Linked DNA regions of Homo sapiens: region 1 is reported to be linked to region 2. Evidence: microRNA targets listed by miRTarBase, many of them from high-throughput screens and not tested one by one. Region 2 holds a microRNA gene; the other region holds the end of a gene's coding sequence.

Region 1 (4,000 bases), not on the chromosome of region 2:
CAATTCACAAACCTTTGCTGAAATACGCTTTTCTATGAAGTTCTTGTGCATGTGAAACTTAAAATATTAATCAAATTGTATGATTTTTTTTCCTGTTAATTTGTCTTGTGCCAGTTTAATTTGCAGCCCTGAGCCACTGAACCTAACAGGGTAGAGGGAAATTTTTTTCTTCACCTGCAAAAGAAAGGGTTAAGTGCTATCCCATGAAACTATATCGAGTCAACTCTATAGAGCTATTGGGCACTCTCTGCACCCATTGGGGTAATTGGTGTCACAAGGGTAATTCTGCTGGGCTAACATGTTTCAGGTGTAGACATTCCTGCATGGGCAAAGAAAAGAAAACCCAAATGAATCTGTGTCTGAACAAGCCCACGGATATGGCTCTAAACCACCTTTCTGCTAAAATCCAAAGCAGAAGGGGACAGATTCAGATTTATTCTAGTATCCCAGAAGTTTGCTCTGTGATAGGGACAGATCAAGCTCAGTACTGATTCTAACACTGCCTTAACTGCTCATCTGGCACACACAAGTGACCATGATGCAACACACAAAGTGCAATCAAGAAAGCTCCAAAGATGCTGCCATCTGCCCCACACGTAGGCTCCCAGGAGCACACCTGCAGCAGGTCAGCGAGGAAAGAGGACAGCGGGAGGGAGCGCAGGCCAGGGAACGTGTGCCCCAGGCCCTTCAGCTCGGGTTTTATTTGGGTTTTAAGCAGCAAGACAAGGGGAGAAAAGGCAGGCTGAGCCCTGGCATCTCAGATGGCAGAGATGGCTCCCAGTACCCCACCCAGAAATGCAGGGCAGCCCTGGAGGGGAGGTTAGAGAGGAAACGACTGTGTCCCCCTCATCCTGCCCAGTCTGGGGCTTTCCCAGGACTTAAGTACTGACCTGCTAACACAGTCCCTGCAGGGAGTCCATCTAGGATCGGCCACCTCTGAGGTTCTCCCACTTTCCTCTGATTCCAGCTCCTTGCTGGCCAGGGTATGGCCACATTTTCCTTGCCCCCACTCCACCACCTTCCACCTTCCACCTTCCTCTCTTAGCCTCTATCTATGAGAGGTACGCCCCTCACCCCCGAGAGCAGGGTCTCATTGGCGGCCATGGTCCCAGCCTCAAGGGGCCTGGTTGAAACAGGCTGTGTCATGAGCCCCCACAGCCACCCTGCGCGACACCCCCCTCACAGGCCCACAGCAGGCTGCATCCTGAGCTCCCCGCCCTAGACAGAGACAGATTACTCCCGGAGCAGTCCCCCAAACCTCCCACCCGCCCAGGCCTCCCCAGTCCCCGGCTCCCCGACGCCCCTGCACGCCACCCCCGCCCAGGAGCACCTTGAGGTCTTCGGCCGCGTCCTGCAGCGGCCGCACGCGGTGCGCCCAGTGCTCCCCAGAGCGCTCGCAGGCCGCACACAGGAGGCGCAGCTCGTCGCCACAGAAGGCGGCCAGTGGCTCGCGGTGCGCGGGGCACACGCCCTGCGGGACCGGCGACGGCGGGTGCAGGCGCCGCGCCATCTCGGCCATCTTAGCAAGCGGGCGGTTGGGCCGCAGGTTCCTCTGCGGGGACAGCTCGCGGCACTCGGGGCACGCGTACGGGCCCTCGGGCTGGCCCCAGCAGCGCCGGATGCACTCGCGGCAGAAGTTGTGGCCGCAGTCGGTCATCACCGGATCCGTGAAGTAGTCGAGGCAGATGGCGCAGGTGGCCTCCTCCTGGAGGTTGGTGGACAGGTCGGGGGCGGCCATGGCGCGGACAGAGGGGAGGAAGGCGGTACTGTCCGCGGGGCGGCGGCGGGCGGCCTCGGCAGCTCGCGGGGACGCGGGGTATCCGGGTGCGGCGGCGCAGGCTCGGGCACTCCGGGGCGCGAGGCTCGGGACTCCCGGGTGCTCGGGCTCCGGGGCGCGGGGACTCCAGGGCGCAGGACTCTGGGTTTCGGTAGCGCTGGGCGCGTAGGCTCCGAGCGCTCGGGGGACGCGGGACGTAGGGATCCCGGATGCCGGCAGGAAGAGGAGCCGAGGCGGAAGCAGGAAGCGACTGGGTGGGTTTTGTGTGTTTTTTTTTTTTTTTTTTTTTTTTTTTTTTTTTTTTTGGAACAACCCGCTTTTGCCTCCGATTGGCCGCTGCCAGTCACGCGGCCCGCGGGCGGGACGGAATTGGAGAGCTTTCACTTGCTGACCTGGCGTCACCACCGCTCCGGTTCTTGTGGCCAGGTCTTTTACCCCTGCCCTGGGGAGGACTCAGGCGCAGGGGAGGGATGGGGACAGGGGGCGGGGCGCAGGGGAGGGATGGGGACAGGGGGCGGGGCGCAGGGGAGGGATGGAGCAGGGGGCAGGGCAAGGAGGGATGGGGACTCAGGGCGGGGCACACGGAAGCAACTGCAAGGACTAAGGGAGTCCGCAGCCTGGGGCATTGGAGCCCTTCGCCATACCCCTAGTGCGTCCTCACCCCCTCAGCCCGTGCTTCCCAGGGCGGGTATCCTCGGAAGGCCCGGCCCTCACAGCCTTGGCAGGCCAAGGTCAGAATGATTGGAGTTGGGGGATGGGACGGGGGCATCCCTCCAGGACCAGCTCTCCAGGAGGCCCACATTCTTTCTGCGGGAACCACTCCAAAGGGGCATGCTGTTCCAGGCAGCCCCTCGCGCAGACACTCCGGCTTTGTCGAGGTAGGAGTACGCTTACTCTGGAATTCTGCCTTGCTAGTGACTGACACAGGCTGTTAAAGTGCTTGACCCTGCAGGGGTGGGTGGGGGGTTCCTTGGAAAAGGTAAGGGCGCTGTGGAAAAGAGGCCCCTACATAAATCCTAATCTCTTTGGGATTTTGCCCCTGCTCGTGCAACTTTGGGGATCGAACGGGATGGGGGTGGGCAGCTCTGAGGCTTTTTACGGGTTCAGCCTTTCCCATTTTCCCCCATCGAAGGACCCAATAGGATGCATAGGACATTTCTATGGGCAGCCTGGGACCATCCCTGACACAGCAACCACCCCCGCTCCTCCCCACCATAGGATATTTCTACTTCTTTGACAGAGTAACCTAAACCCCTGGGGGGGCTGGGAGCCACAGATTCCTGTCATTCCAAAGTGGGGGTGGGGGCATGGCTAAAAAAAACGTGACCACGCTGTTCCTGGTGTGTAGGTATGGATTTAGAAATCGGTCCACTCAGAACGCAGGGGCTTTCAAAAGTTTCCTCTAGGAAGCATCTGTCAGTATACCCTCTTAATGTTTGACAGTTCTAATCACAATTATATTTAGAATTTGAGAAACCCCCCTGTGTGTCTAATGGCTGCCAGCGTGATGCCAGAGAACCCTGGCAGGTGGCCTGCAGTAAGCAGAAGGCCCACACCTTCTGCAGAGCCAGGAGCAGTGCCCGAGTCCCCCGGTCTGTGTCTATCCTTTCACCCACATGGTCACTGTGGAGATGACCATCTGACCAGACTTCGGAGCCCCCAGGCAGAAGAAAGGCTGCAGGGGGCCTGGGAAGGTGGCCTGGGAGTAGGTGTGCAGGTGGGACCCATCGCTTACACTGTAGAAGGACACTTCCCCGGCTTCGAAGTCCAGGAAGATGCCCATGTGGCTGGGAGGCTCCATCAGCATGACCGGGGTTAGGGCAGAGAAGGTGGATAAGTACTTGGTCCCCTTGGACAGCTGCACCACCCAGAAGCCGTTTTCGGGGCACTTGGGGACCCTGTCTTTCCGGCTCACGTTGTCCCTGCACACACCCAGGGCCCACAACGCGTCCCCGGTGATGTTCATGCCCACCTCCCAGTAGTGCCTCCCAGAGGAGAAGGCCGTCTGGCCCACAGCACAGGGGTAAGCCACAAATCGGTCCTTGCTGCAGAACCCACTGCCCTCCGGCGAAGAGCCGAGGTAGCGCCTCTGGCGGCTCTCATACAGGAGGAGGTAGGGGTACGCGGAGGTGGCATCAGGCACCACATCCTCTGTAGATGGGCGTGGTGGTGGAGAGATGGGGAGAGGTGTGGGGCATTCAGGGTCAAAGGTGGGAGTCCCCG
Region 2 (4,000 bases):
ATTCTGCAGCTTGCTTCATTTCAAGCCATGTACCAACATGGTTCCACATCAGATCAGTGTACATGCCCAGCCACACTCTGTGAGACTGCACTGCACCCCATTCTGTGGATGTGCCATGAGTGTAAGGGCTCCCCATTTAGCAGGCACTCAGGTTGTTCCCCGTGTTTTTAAACACTGCCAGGCTGCCACAACTATCCCTTTATGCTTATCCTCATGGCGTTCTGTATTATTTCTGTTGGAGAGAGTCTCAAAAATGGCTCTGCTTTTTATTTCTATTTAAATATTTTTTGTTAGATGGCCCTCCAGAAAGGCTGCACCAGCTTTAAAACCCTCGGTTCCCTTTTCTTTATGCTGGGTGTGCACTTTACCTCAGCCCTCGAGGGTGCCTCTGCCCACACCTGGGCCAGCACCCAATAACGTTTCCCTCGTGGCATCTGCAGCAACAGCCCTGCCCGCCCCTTCCAACTCTGCCCCCAGCCCCCAGCAATGGCACAGACATTTCTCGTTACGTTACTCCTTTGGTCTTCTTCTCGAACCTCCTCTCACTCCCCCTCCCCCGATACTGGGCCATCTTCCTCTGCCAGCCCTTCACTGTTGTTCTGTAAGTTTCTCTGGGTTTCCTCCCCCGTCACCTTTATGCCCATGACAGTCAGACGGGCCTCCCACTCCCTCTGCGCCTCATCCCTCTTCTCTCCCTGGGCCACCTCGCCTCGTGGTACAGGGCAGCCAAGTCATCCAAACCAACTGCCCAATGAACGAGGGCTACACAGGTGAGTGTGCGGAAAAGGAGAGAACTCACATCGACCCTGGCATTCATGCATTCTACAAATATTTATTGAGTACCTATTAAGTGCCAGAGGCCGGGAAAGATGTTCAGCTCAATTAGGTGAGGTCTGTCTTGGAGGCGAGGGAGACATTAATCAAATAATCACACAAATCAATGTTGGGTTTCAAATTGTGCTGGGTGCTATGAGGGAGTGGCTCACAGACATGTCCCTGGCAGCTGCCTTGCCTGAAGGAAACGTGTTATCCAGGGAATGGCATTGGAACTGAGACCTGAACAGAGGGCAGGGTTTGATCAGATGAAGCAGACGATGAAGAGCTCTCCATGTTGCTACAGCAGGCCTGGGCCAGAGGGCCGTGAGGCACTTCATAGAGGCCTTGAGAAGAGGTCTGGGAAGCCCGGGGTAGGACGGTAGGCGGTGGGGGAGAGGAACGTGTATTTATGAGACACGTGCTCTTGGCCCTGCCTGCATTTCTAGCCAATCTAGAAATAACAACAGGAAAGCACTCACTCCCGGCACTGGCCCCTCTGAGACCAGGAGACCTTGGGTTCAGCATGCACTGATGGAGAAGAAGCAGGATGCAGAGGCCTTTACCCCCTCTCTCACTGATTACATGGTTATAGCCCTACACTCTGCCTTTGCAGATGCCATGCTTACCCTTAGCTGGACACTCAGATGCCTCCTACCAGTAACTGGAGAGAGAAAGTAAGCCTCTGGGTCGCAGCAAGGGGGACAGGCAAGGGTCAGGACAGTTTGGCTTTTGACCAATCCACACTTGCCTAGCTAAGCCCACCTCTGGCTTCCAGAGGCATGCCCCCACCATGTCCGGGAATGTGTGTCAGGCAATGCTTTCTTGCTGGATGCATGGGGAAGGGTTCTAGTTTCTCATTCACTTCATGTGTTCTGCTCTTGGAGTAAGGGCACCTCTCAATAGAGGCTAAGAAATGCTGATCCCTGTGGATAAGAGAGCCACTTAACTTGGCCATCGGCCACTGAGCCCATCATCCATCTAAAGTCTCTCCAAATACTGGTCAGATGGAGGTTTCCACAGCTGCCATTCTAAATGACAGGACATGTGACCGAGTCTGGAGCCCCATCCCAGCTACCCCTCAGCCTTCCTTCCAGCCAAGGACAACCCACTCTGCCCAGAGAGGCCACATTGCCCTCCAGCCAAGGGACCCCCTCCTTTCCGCCCTAGGAAAGAAGTTCTGTCCTCTATCCCCAAGGAGACTGCATATCCTTCACCACCTCCACTGAAGTTTCTAATGTTAGATGGTCCTTCTCTTCACAGCACCTGCCCAAGTCTGTGTTTAGATGCCTCGAGCCTGATCCTTCCAACTAACATAGAAATGCCAAGGCCCGGCATACTTCCCTGGCCATCCTACACCCTTGTTGAAAGCCGGAGTCTCATGGACTTAAAAGTTCTTCAAAAATGAAGCCAGCTAGCTTCTACCCCCATGCCACAGCAGCCCTGCACAGATTAGTAAGCCCACTGTGACTCTGCTTAGTCCACCCTCCTGCCCATCCGCACTGATCACCAACCACTAAGCCCTGCCTGCGGGAGTCCAAGGAACTCACTAGGTCTCTGACTCAACCTCTAGTGAAGAGGGGGTTTCCCAGGAGTGAAGTACCTATGAGGGTTACTGCCCCTTCTTTCTGGATTTTGGCTCTGAAAGTGTGGAATAAGAGAGTGCACAGTGACTCTTCCACTTCTCAATCCAAGAGAACTCCATACAGTTCTGTTCTATTCCAATGACCTCTGATCAGAAGGAAAATGGCTATTGCAATAACATAGCACTGAGAGATTCTGAAAGAATCAAGCCAGGCCCTTTTGGAGATCAAAGCTTTCAGGAATTAATGCTCAGGTAATTCACGGAGAAAATGATGTGTGGGTAATTTCTGGAATCTTTTCACCTGGGCAGACACATGACTCCCACCAGAGCTCTCCCACCTGTTGCTTTGGGTGCCAGCCAGAAAGCATTGTCCCCGCCCGGGCTGGATTCTAGCCTTGGGTCAAACGGGCTACAGTGCCAATGAAGATGGTACTCAGCGACCTTGGTTCACCAGCAGAACCTGAGAAACCCTCTTCTACCTGAAAGGAGGAGCAGCCCCTTGAGGGCAGCACCTGCCAGTGAGTGTGGAGCCAGGCCACCCTGTCCTTACAAAACTCTTGCAATGTTTGATAGAGAGTAGACATCCGAGGGTATAAAGTACTTTTCCTGTGCATCTTCTCAATTCCCAGGTAGTCTCAGTGAGCTCGAACTATTCACCCAGAAAAGACAGTATGAACTAGCTTTACCCTGGGCCCCTGACCAGGCCTGGTGGTGGCAGCTCCAACTCCATGCAGACAGGAGCTGGGCTGCCCTACCTGGAGAAGCTAGCCACCTACTCTGCCCAGGAATGTCTTGGGTGTCCCCAGAAGGCCTGCTCCTTCCAAAGTTGAAAGCAATGGTGATCTGCTGAAGACACTGGAACTCCGCAGGAAACTGCTGAGCAAAGGAGGCAAGGAAAAGGATATTCTTGGAATATCCAGAAAACCAAGTCGGGAGGGAGATGCTTAAGGGAAGAGAAGGGGCTATCTCCTAGGGAGTGGTCTAGAATCTTCCCATCACTGACACCCAACTTCTGCCCATTATCGGAGGTGCATCTGTCCCTTGGTGAGGGACAGGTAAGGAGGACTCCAGCAGAGCCTCAGCAAACAAGAGCTGTCTGCCTGCTGCAGGGGAGGGTGTATGTGTGACAGGGAGGGTTGGAGAAGGGGCTGCCTTCCACCACTTGTAGTCCTAGGAATCCATGGACACCCTTATTGTGGCTGCGGGCCAGTGTTCCAGGGGCCCTTGTCCTGGGGTGGGAGGAAGGAGCTGTGAAGATGCCAGCCTACTAGGGACAGGGGTAGGACCAGGTGTGCAGCCTGGAACAAGGGACAGAGGGAGGAAGCAGCACCATCAGCACTTTTTCCTTAACACCTGGGTGTGGGTTTGGGTGTGCATTTCTTAGGCAAAGAGGCATCTCAGTGCATGTTTTAAGCTGCCATCTCCTCCTTTTAAGCCTCCTAGTTAATATCTGCTATGTGAATTATTTACTGGGAACAGATGTTAGAGTTTAAAGAGCACTGAGCAGAGATCTTTGGCTAATCAATTTATTTTAACAGGTTTAAGTCTTTACTACACACCCAATTGGAGATTTCCCTGCCACTGGAAGCCTGTGCTCCTACA

The links. Region 2 holds the annotated microRNA hsa-miR-7159-5p (UUCAACAAGGGUGUAGGAUGG, at 2,162-2,182, opposite strand). A microRNA usually pairs through its seed, bases 2 to 8, with sites in the 3' UTR of a target mRNA and lowers its output. Matches are read on the target gene's strand: a 7mer-m8 pairs with bases 2 to 8, a 7mer-A1 pairs with bases 2 to 7 and ends in A, and an 8mer does both.
Region 1: miRTarBase lists TRIM17 as a target of hsa-miR-7159-5p. The part of its 3' UTR that is shown has no 7-base or 8-base seed match.

What each region holds. Positions count from the first base shown.
Region 1 is chr1:228,404,824-228,408,823 of GRCh38, forward strand. TRIM17 (tripartite motif containing 17) reads right to left here. Exons shown (of 7, transcript NM_016102.4): 7 at 3,112-3,928. The coding sequence ends at 3,378. TRIM11 (tripartite motif containing 11) reads right to left here and starts at 2,012. Exons shown (of 6, transcript NM_145214.3): 1 at 1,331-2,012. The coding sequence starts at 1,738. RefSeq lists silencers at 1,724-1,963, 2,024-2,113, 2,254-2,323 and enhancers at 2,674-2,723, 2,915-3,574.
Region 2 is chr6:33,897,317-33,901,316 of GRCh38, reverse strand. It overlaps MIR7159 (microRNA 7159), which reads right to left and starts at 2,182; the gene lies at 2,117-2,182. All of the region lies in intron 1 of LOC105375026 (a long non-coding RNA gene), which reads right to left.